2 separate regions of the Homo sapiens genome follow, and region 1 is reported to be linked to region 2. Evidence: microRNA targets listed by miRTarBase, many of them from high-throughput screens and not tested one by one. Region 2 holds a microRNA gene; the other region holds the end of a gene's coding sequence. Distances are between the middles of the regions.
The links. Region 2 holds the annotated microRNA hsa-miR-6775-3p (AGGCCCUGUCCUCUGCCCCAG, at 1,862-1,882, opposite strand). A microRNA usually pairs through its seed, bases 2 to 8, with sites in the 3' UTR of a target mRNA and lowers its output. Matches are read on the target gene's strand: a 7mer-m8 pairs with bases 2 to 8, a 7mer-A1 pairs with bases 2 to 7 and ends in A, and an 8mer does both.

Region 1: miRTarBase lists SLX4 as a target of hsa-miR-6775-3p. Seed matches in the 3' UTR shown: 7mer-A1 at 2,840-2,846.

Annotation. Positions count from the first base shown.
Region 1 is chr16:3,578,453-3,582,825 of GRCh38, forward strand. It overlaps SLX4 (SLX4 structure-specific endonuclease subunit), which reads right to left. Exons shown (of 15, transcript NM_032444.4): 15 at 2,729-4,241. The coding sequence ends at 3,890. It overlaps LOC105371060 (a long non-coding RNA gene), which reads left to right. Exons shown (of 2, transcript XR_001752061.3): 1 at 1-601; 2 at 935-2,769. Among named protein-coding and RNA genes, the nearest start is that of NLRC3, 3.2 kb to the left of the region's middle. RefSeq lists enhancers at 35-84, 115-294, 2,196-2,991 and a silencer at 735-834.
Region 2 is chr16:87,832,731-87,837,103 of GRCh38, forward strand. MIR6775 (microRNA 6775) reads right to left here and starts at 1,930; the gene lies at 1,862-1,930. SLC7A5 (solute carrier family 7 member 5) reads right to left here. Exons shown (of 10, transcript NM_003486.7): 8 at 3,768-3,917; 9 at 1,684-1,861; 10 at 1-295. The coding sequence ends at 240. SLC7A5-AS1 (SLC7A5 antisense RNA 1) reads left to right here and starts at 3,535. Exons shown (of 2, transcript XR_007065175.1): 1 at 3,535-4,072. RefSeq lists enhancers at 1,301-1,855, 3,947-4,373 and a silencer at 1,873-2,167.

The sequences.
Region 1 (4,373 bases), 84 Mb from region 2:
TCAGTGGGTGGCCTGCCCTGACAGGGAAGGGCGTGAGGGGGAAGGACATGGCCCAGAGCAAGCCACATGAGAAAAATTACAATAAAGTATGGGACATCCGCTGGGGACAGGGAGCAAGCAACATGGGGCCACTGAGGGAAGGAGGTGACAAGGTGGGAGCCAAGGGACAGGGGTCCTGGGGTCTGAATTTTCCTCAGCAAGCAAGTGGGAGCCAGCAATGGTTGTAGAGCAGGAGAGTAGTGGGTCTGGACTCATAGAGCAGCTTGTGGCTCAGGGGAGGTAGGAGGGTTAGCTGGTTCCCCAGAGCCTGTGTGGGTGATGGGGGGGAGGGAACTGAGGCAGCAGACCAGAAGTGCTCCTGCACATTCCCCTGCCTGCCTACCTTCTTTTGTCCCTCCTTCCTCTCCCTCCCTCCCAACAATGCTTTCTGAGCACCCAGGAACCTGCTGGGTGCTGGGAGGACACGATGGACCCTCGAGAAGGCTGCCCGAGGCTCCAGGCAGGCAGAGTGCAGACCCAGCAGCTGCAGCCTCGGCTGTGGGGAGCAACAAAGGCGCCTGAAACCAGGCCGCCCACAGGATGTTGGAAACCACAGGGCCCGGTGGGTATCCGTCACATAAAAGGGGCCAGAGGCTCACACTGCCTCCCTTTGTGGCTCAGGGGGATGGATGCGGAGCCTGAGAGGACACAGCCTCATCCACGGGATCTTGGGGAGCAGCCCAACCCAGCCCAGCCCAGCCCCGCCCCGCCCCGCCCCGCCCGTTCCTCCCCCTCGCAGGAATGTCCATCAGTCCACACAGGGCTGGTCCCATTCCCCACTCTGCCCGCTCTGCTGAGAACCAGGTGGGCCGTCCTCCTGGCTCCTGGTGGAGGTGGGGGTGCTGGGCTGGGGGCTCCCTAACTGTTCTCACTCTGGGGCTTTCTGTCCACCCAGAGCTGGGGTCAGCCAGACAGGAAGCGACCTCAGCCCTTCCTAACTCAGCAACAGCGCAAGGCCCCTGCCTGCAGGCTCTTTCTTTGTAAGTGCCCTTGCCTGGGCCCAGGCTGGGGTGTGGCTCCCCTGTGACTGCCTTGAGGGGCTGTGCCCAAGCCATGCCAGGTTGGGGCCACCAAAAGTGGGACAGGCCTGGAGGCCTGTTCATATTACAGTGAGGCATAGACAGACCCGTTTTCTGATTTAGTTGTTACCAGTGAAAGTTCTGCTGCCAGTCTTTTATTCTCCCCCTTTAGAAATGTTTTTAATATTGTTTTCAAAATAGAGACTTGGCCTTACTATGTTGCCCAGGCTGGTCTCAAACTCCTGGGCTCAAGTGATCCTCCTGCCTTGGCCTCCCAAAGCACTGGGATTACATGTGGGAGCCACCGCACCCGGCATGCCAGCTTCCTTCTCAGTCACTCCTGGAAGGTAACTCTCTCTCGCCTTGTCCATGAAGAGGCCCCATTGCCTGCCAGTCTTGCTGCAGGCGCTGTGAGAAGGCATTTTCCATCTGTCAACTGGACCTAGTTTTATGTTGCCCGGGTCAGCGTCATCCCTGTAGCAGGGGCCAGGTCTACTCCTGGATGCCACCACGCCTCTGTGGGTTCCTGCAGTGACTCCTTCAACCCTTTCCCTCTGGAGGAATCAGCTGCTTCACAGCTTGTTTCAGGACAAGGAAATGCTGCTTTGTACAGGTTCAGGGCCAGCATCCAGTCCCCTGGCTGGGTGGCAGTGCATAAACCAAGCCTCTGCCCAGCGCTGTCAGCCCAGGGAGCGTCCAGCAGCCCCAACTGAATCCAAGGTCACCACAAGGCTCGAATCCAGTCCCCAGGCCATGCCTCCCCTGGCCTTGGGCTCACACTGCACTCAAGGCTCCTAACCCAGCTTGTTAACTACTTGGAACCCCTCCCCCAACCCATCTTTACCAGCCTTGAAGTTCTGAACTTTCAAGTCATGGCACATAACACATACTTCCCCAAACCACAAACCCTGCGAGGCCGGACAGGGGCCCCGAGTCCCCCACCTGCACCACTCCCTCTCGCTTCCCTAACACCAGGGAGGGGGATCAGCCCATCAAGGAAGCAGTGCGTGATGCCTTCCGAAACAGGCCAGAGGCCAGCCTCAGATTGATCACAGCTGATCTCAGCCTCTCAAATTGTTCGCCCCGGGCACCGTAAGCTGGGAGGCCTGGGCCTCTCCGCTGGTTCACGTGCCAGGACATAGTATGTGCGCCAGAAATCACATTTCACCCCCTAAATGCTGCTGAGCCCTAAGATGCAGCTCACAAACCCCTCTTCTGGGAGGCTGTCCCTGACACGGCCCTTCAAGCCACTGGAGCCCGACTCCCCACCAGGCTGGGATAGGCCAGCGTCTGTCTCCTCCACTGGACCGGACGCAATGGTAAAGGCATGTGCTGTCTTGGTGAGTTGTGGGGTGGGGCCTGAATCTGCTTTTGTAGCAACTCCCGGCTGAGGCAGCAGCTGGGGGTGCTTGGGCCCCACTTTGAGGTGCGGGGGCTGGAGCTTGGCACCCAGCCAGGGCTCTGTTGGATACGGGTGTGTGGATTAATGGATGAACATCTGCATCTCTGGTCTGGGAACTGAAATGAGGAGACAGCAGGCCCAGGTTACTCCAAAGTAAAGGGCAGGTGCAAGGTGGGGACTTCTGCAGGCGTGGGGCACGGGCTGAGGGGCCACGGTGCCTCCAGGTCCCCCGTTTCGCTCGTGGTCTCCCTGGAGTGTGGCAGCCAGATTTTAATAAAGCCTTTTTGGTTTATTGCACATCATATAAAACTGACTGCACTGTATTTGAAACAGACGAGGACATTCACAAGGATGGAGAAACCAAGGTTTCCTTCTTTCCTGGCCCTCATCTTCCTCCACACTGCTCCTGAGGCTGGAGGCAGCTTTAACCCAAAGAATGGAATCCGCTAGTGAACATGTTTGTTTTGTGGTGGCATCAGAGTTGTTCTGGGCCCTTGTGCACTGTCCAGTTTGGAGACTGCTGGTAACAATGACAAGTGTCCGGGTAGCACGGCTGGGTCAGGAGAACTGCATCTGGGCTGTGGCAGTGCAGGGAGCCTCAGGACACCTGGTCTCAGGCTGGCGGTGGCTGGGGTTGGCCTGAGTGCTGAGGAGGACGGGCCCGGGCTGCCGGGGCAGGCTGGACCTGACGTCCATCTCAGGACAGACATGTAGGGCAGCTGTGCCCAGGACTGGTGGGCTCAGAGGGTGGCAAATGTGGCAGAATAGGCCATGCCCTGGCCAGCTGGTGATGGCCCACTGCCCCCTGGGACAGCTGAGGGCCCTCTTGGGTTAAGGGAGACACACTGGGCCGGGCGCAGTGGCTGGCGCCTGTGATCCCAGCACTTTGGGAGGCCGCAGCAGGCGGATTGCCTGAGCTCTGGAGTTTGTGACCAGCCTGAGCAACATGGTGAAACCCCGTTTCTACTAAAATATAAAAAATCAGCTGGGCGTGGCAGCGTGTGCCTGTAGTCCCAGCTATCTGGGAGGCTGAGGCAGGAGAATTGCTTGAACCCGGGAGGCGGAGGTTGCAGTGAGCCGAGATTGTGCCACTGCACTCCAGCCTAGGTGACACAGCACGACTGTCTCAAAAAGAAAAAAAAAAAGAAAACCAAAAAGGGAGACACACTGTGAGCACGGACAGAGGAAGGGGCTGGAGTCTGTAAATCCAGTGGGTGACATGCTCCAAATGCCACCCTAGAAAGCAGAGCCCAGAGGAGGAAGCCCTGGATTGGGCTGTGGTCATCATCACAGCGCAGAGCTGATGTGGTCCCCAGGCCCAGAAATGCCTGTGGAGGCCTGACCCACGCTGGGTGTCCCAGGTCCTCCCTGCAAATGGCGGGGGTGGGGGCTGCTGATGGCAGGTTGGGGTGGGGTCGGGATGGCCCCATCAGTTCCGCTCCACCTTCTTCTTGCCCCGAGGCTGCCGCCTCCTGCCCTGGAGCTTCTCCCTGCGGGTGGCGGCAGTGGTGAAGGTGATACAGTGGGTGTCCAGGAAGTCCAACAGCCTGCGCGAGGACACACGGAGGCCGTTCTGCCTCAGCTCTGCCTGCAGCTCCCGCAGCTCAAAGGGCTGGTACAGCAGCACCTTCTGGTACAGGGCCGGCTTGGAGCGGATGTAGCACCTCAGCGCCTCGTCTGTGTCCGCCGCCTGCACGGCTGCCTGCGAGGCACTGACCTCCCCCTCGCCCTCCTCTTCACCTGCAGACTCAAATGCCGCTCCAAACTCACAGGAGGAAGAACTGAAAAGAGCCAGACCAGGACGTTGTGCAACCCCTTTCTCTCCAGCCCCTGAGACCATGAGCCTCTTTAAAGGAAGGAAGGTGTCTACGGGTCCCATGGAGCCTGGCCTGTGGCACGATCCCCAGCAAGGC
Region 2 (4,373 bases):
ACCAAAAGCTGCTCCTGGGCAGGAGCACAGGCACACCTGGGTCCCTGGCCCTCAGTTGAGGGATGAGATTCGTACCAGAGTTTTCACAGCAGCCTCCACTGCCCGACCTGGGAGGGACGGCGAGGGACTGGGATGGGCAGCTGAGCTGTGGGTTGCGGGGAACCGGAGTGGGTTCGAGGAGGTGATCTACTTTAACTGGCCTCTGCGCATGCTCCTCCGGCAGCCACTCGGCCTCCTGGCTATGTCTCCTGGGGGACCACCTGCATGAGCTTCTGACACAGGACGGTCGTGGAGACTGTCAGGAGAGAAGACAGCTGTGTTAGCCTGGGGGCTGGGTAGGCACCCGTGGGACACGGGGGCGTGAGCTGGGGCTCCCCCAGCCCTGCTGTCACCAAACCCAGCGCCGCTGCCCAGCGCTGGGATTTTAAGGAACCTTCCCTTGTGTACTTGCGCATGTGGGTGCCGGGTGCCCGAGGCGCTGTCTTCAACTGAAATGCGGAAGTGCCACATCCCACTCGGCCCACCCCTCGCCTGCTTCAGAACCCTGGGGAGGCAGAGTGCGGCCCCTGGGGCACACGAACCAGGCCCTGGTGTCTCAGCAAAGTGCAACGGGGGGATGACAGGCCTTCCTGCAGGTCCACACCCGGGCCACCACCTGGACACATGCCTGGACTGTTCACAGCAGGCAGGGCCGGAGGGGCCAATCTGCTAACGGGTCCTCGGAAGACCTGTCGCGCCTGGGACTGTCTACAGAGACATCACTCTGTGGAGGGGGACTGCTTTCAGGATAGAGACGGGGGTTTGCTTTAAGCTCTTGGTGTCCTGAATGACAGTTAATGCAGATCCCACTGCAAAGCTTGAGGCAAATGTTCTACCATGACCCTGGCGGTGATCAGAGTGTGGGGTAGGGGTGGGGGGTCTCCCTGCCTGTGTTGCTGCCATCCCGGGAATTCTCCAAGCCACCCAGTGACATGGGGATCAGCATGTAGGCCCGCAAGCACCCCGGCCTTTTTCTACGAGCCTGGCCACATTTGCAGGCGCTGAGGACGGGGTCCTGAGCTTGGTGACAAAGCACCCCTGGGGCTGCCGCTGCACACAGGGCCGGGGGGCGGGTTTCTCCTTCTGCCTTTTTTTTTTTTTTTGAGAAGAGTCTCGCTCTGTCGCCCAGGCTGGAGTGCAATGGTGCGATCTCGGCTCACTGCAACCTCCGTCTCCCGGGTTCAAGTGATTCTCCTGCCTCAGCCTCCTGAGTAGCTGGGATTACAGGTGTGTGCCACTACACCCAGCTGATCTGTGTATTTTTAGTAGAGACAGAGTTTCACCATGTTGGCCAGGCTGGTCTTGAACTCCTGACCTCAAGTGATCCGCCTGCCTCTGCCTCTTTCTGCCTTTCTGGGTAAGTCTGCTGTGTCCGCTGGTGGCAGCCAGCAGGATTTTGTTACTTGGCAGCAGTAGCCTGGTTTTCCGGAATCCCTCGTCCTGAGAGATTAGCTGGTGCTGCGCTGTGTGTCTTATCCCTGAACCATGTGGGCTGCGTGTCACTGGCGGACACTGCAGTGACCTGAACCCTCCTGCCACCCAACACGCTTCGCCCCATGTGGGTGGAGACGGCCGACGCCTCTCAACTCCCTTCGCTGCCCAGGGCAGAGGGTACCACGGGCTGTGGGCCAGCGAGATACTCACAGATGCCCTGGAGGAGCCACTTGGGCTTGTTTTTCCACCAGACCCCGAAGAAGTAGACGGGCAGCCCGCTGAGGATGATGGTGAAGCCGATGCCACACTCCACGGGTGTCTTCCAGAAGGAGACGGCGATCAGGAAGAGGCAGGCCAGGATGAAGAACACAGGCAGGGCCAGGTTCACCTGGGGCAGAGGACAGGGCCTGGGTGAGCCCTCTCCTGTCCAGCCTCCCTCCCCCATGCCCCGAGGTTCCTCAGCCCTCCTGGGCCCTCCACACCCACGGCTGCTGACTTCCAGGTCACCAAGATGCGATCTGCACTCCATCTGCCTCACACACCGGGCTGTCCCGCCCTCGACTCTGCATACAGTGCTGGGCATGTTGCCAGGGGCTCAGGCGGCTTATGATGAGGGATGGAAGGAGACAGCTTCGTCTCCCGAGGCCTCCCACGGGCAGGGAAGGTCACGGCTCCATTCCCACATCACAGGCCTGGAAACCCTGAGCCGCCAGGACGCACAGGGGCCTGATGCTTCCAGGAGACAGTGGCCACCCACTAATAAGCCAGGAGACCACCCTCTTGGAGACGCCGCTGTGGACAGCGCTGAGCAAAAGCCCATCCCTGAAGCTGCAGCCTAAACTGTCACCTTCAGCAGATGAGCTCCACCCGGCACAGAAGCCAGGCAGGGCTGCAAGGAGCCTGCAGGCCGCAACCTGCGGCTCGGCATGGCTGGGGGATTGACTCAGCTGTCCTGAATCCATACTTGGACAGGGCACCCTGGGAGATGCAGGGCTGACCACAGGTCCCAGCCCATCAGTGTGGGCTGCATGACTGCCCTGTCCCCAGGGAACAGACGCCAACCCGTGCCCAGGCTCACAACAGTGGGTAGAGCCTACCCCATGCCCAGGTCCCCATGGGGGCTGAGCCCCCGCTGTGCGCAGTGACTGCCCTGTGCCCTAGGCACTGCCCCAGGCTGGCACAGCAGGCACAAGCTGGTGCCCATGTAGGGCGGCTCCTCCCTGCCCTCTGCAGCCTTCTCTTGGGGCAGCATCTGGGTTCTTGTGCTGACTGTATTTTAAAGCCCCTGTTTTTTTTGTTTGTTTGAGACGGAGTCTCACTCTGTCGTCCAGGCTGGAGTACAGTGGCGCGACCTCGGCCTCCCAGGTTCATGCCATTCTCCTGCCTCCACCTCCCGAGTAGCTGCAACTATAGGCGCCCGCCACCACGCCCAGCTAATTTTTTTGTATTTTTAGTAGAGACGGGGTTTCACCGTGTTAGCCAGGATGGTCTCTATCTCCTGACTTTGTGATCTGCCCGCCTCGGCCTCCCAAAGTGCTGGGATTACAGGCGTGAGCCACCGCGCCCAGCCTAAAGCCCGTTCAACAGCATTCACAGGCACCCCCGGGGCCCCCAGGCTTCGGGAACACAGAGGGAGAGATGGTCCGGGCAGGGAAGCAGGGGCTACTGTGACAGCCATAGGCCAGCTGAGTGACAAAAGCTGCTGGCTAGCAGCCACCAGGGGCTCTGGCCTCTTGTTCTGTGTCAGGGCCAGGGCGGCGGGACTTGCTGGGCCCCAGGCAAGAGCATGGCCTCTGCTGGACGGCCCCGTTTTTGGAGAAGGCAGCCCACGGATAACAGCTACCCCTCTGAATGAGCCGCTGGGGACGGGGAGAGTCCAGGAGAGTCCAGCTGGGCCCAGGCGCTCCTCGGGCCGGGTTCCCTGCATTCCTCCTGCCAGCACAGCCCCGACGGCCCTTTGAATGCTGCGCCAGGCCCGGCTCTGCCCCGCCCCTGCCGGGGCTCACCACCGCCCACCTATGACTGCAGTGTCCTTATCTGCTTCCCTCCACCCAACGGAGCACAAGCTCTGTGCCATCTGCTGTCCTTTGAGGAACCCCGGCTCCTGCAGTCACACTTGGCACCCTCGTAGCTGGTGGTCAAGTCATCACCGGAATTAGTCGACCCAGGTGCATGCAGGCAGGGGCAGGTCCAGAGGCTGAGCTGGGATGCTGGCTCCCAACTCAGGGTCCTTAGGACCCACGGACCCTGCCTCTGTGAAGGGTGCCTGGGTGAGCGGGAGGCCCCGGGCTCACCTTGATGGGCCGCTCAAGCTCAGGCTTTCTGTGGCGCAGCCAGATCATGCCGATGATGGCCAGGGCCACGCAGAGCCAGTTGAAGAAGCTGAAGAAGTTGATGACGGAGAAGATGTCCTTGGAGAAGGCGTAGAGCAGCGTCATCACACACTGGAAGAGAGAGGCGGCTGGCTGAGCCCTGGGGCCCACGAGCAGGGCTGTGGACGGCCGTGGTGGCCACCGGGGACTGTCCAGCCTGGCTGGGCCCAGCTGAGCACCAGGGAATTTTGTTTTAAAGGAGAAACCTCATCTGAGCAACATGCAAGGTCTTGAAGGAGGAAAGGAGGGAAGGAGGGAGGAGAGGAGGAGGGAAGAGGCGGGGAGGAGGGAAGGAGGGAGGAGAGGAGGGAAGGAGGGAGGAGAGGAGGAAATGGAGACCACATTTGGGTTAAGGACAGGTGAAGAACACAGTGTACATACACAGCTGGGCTCTGCTGGACTGTGGCTCTGTGTGCGAGGGCCACAACCTGACCTAACCCAGTGGTCACCAAGAAAACAGTTTCTGTAACCCCCGGCACAGCCGTGCTCCCGAGGACCGTGCAGCTGCCAAAGAGTCCAGGACTTGCT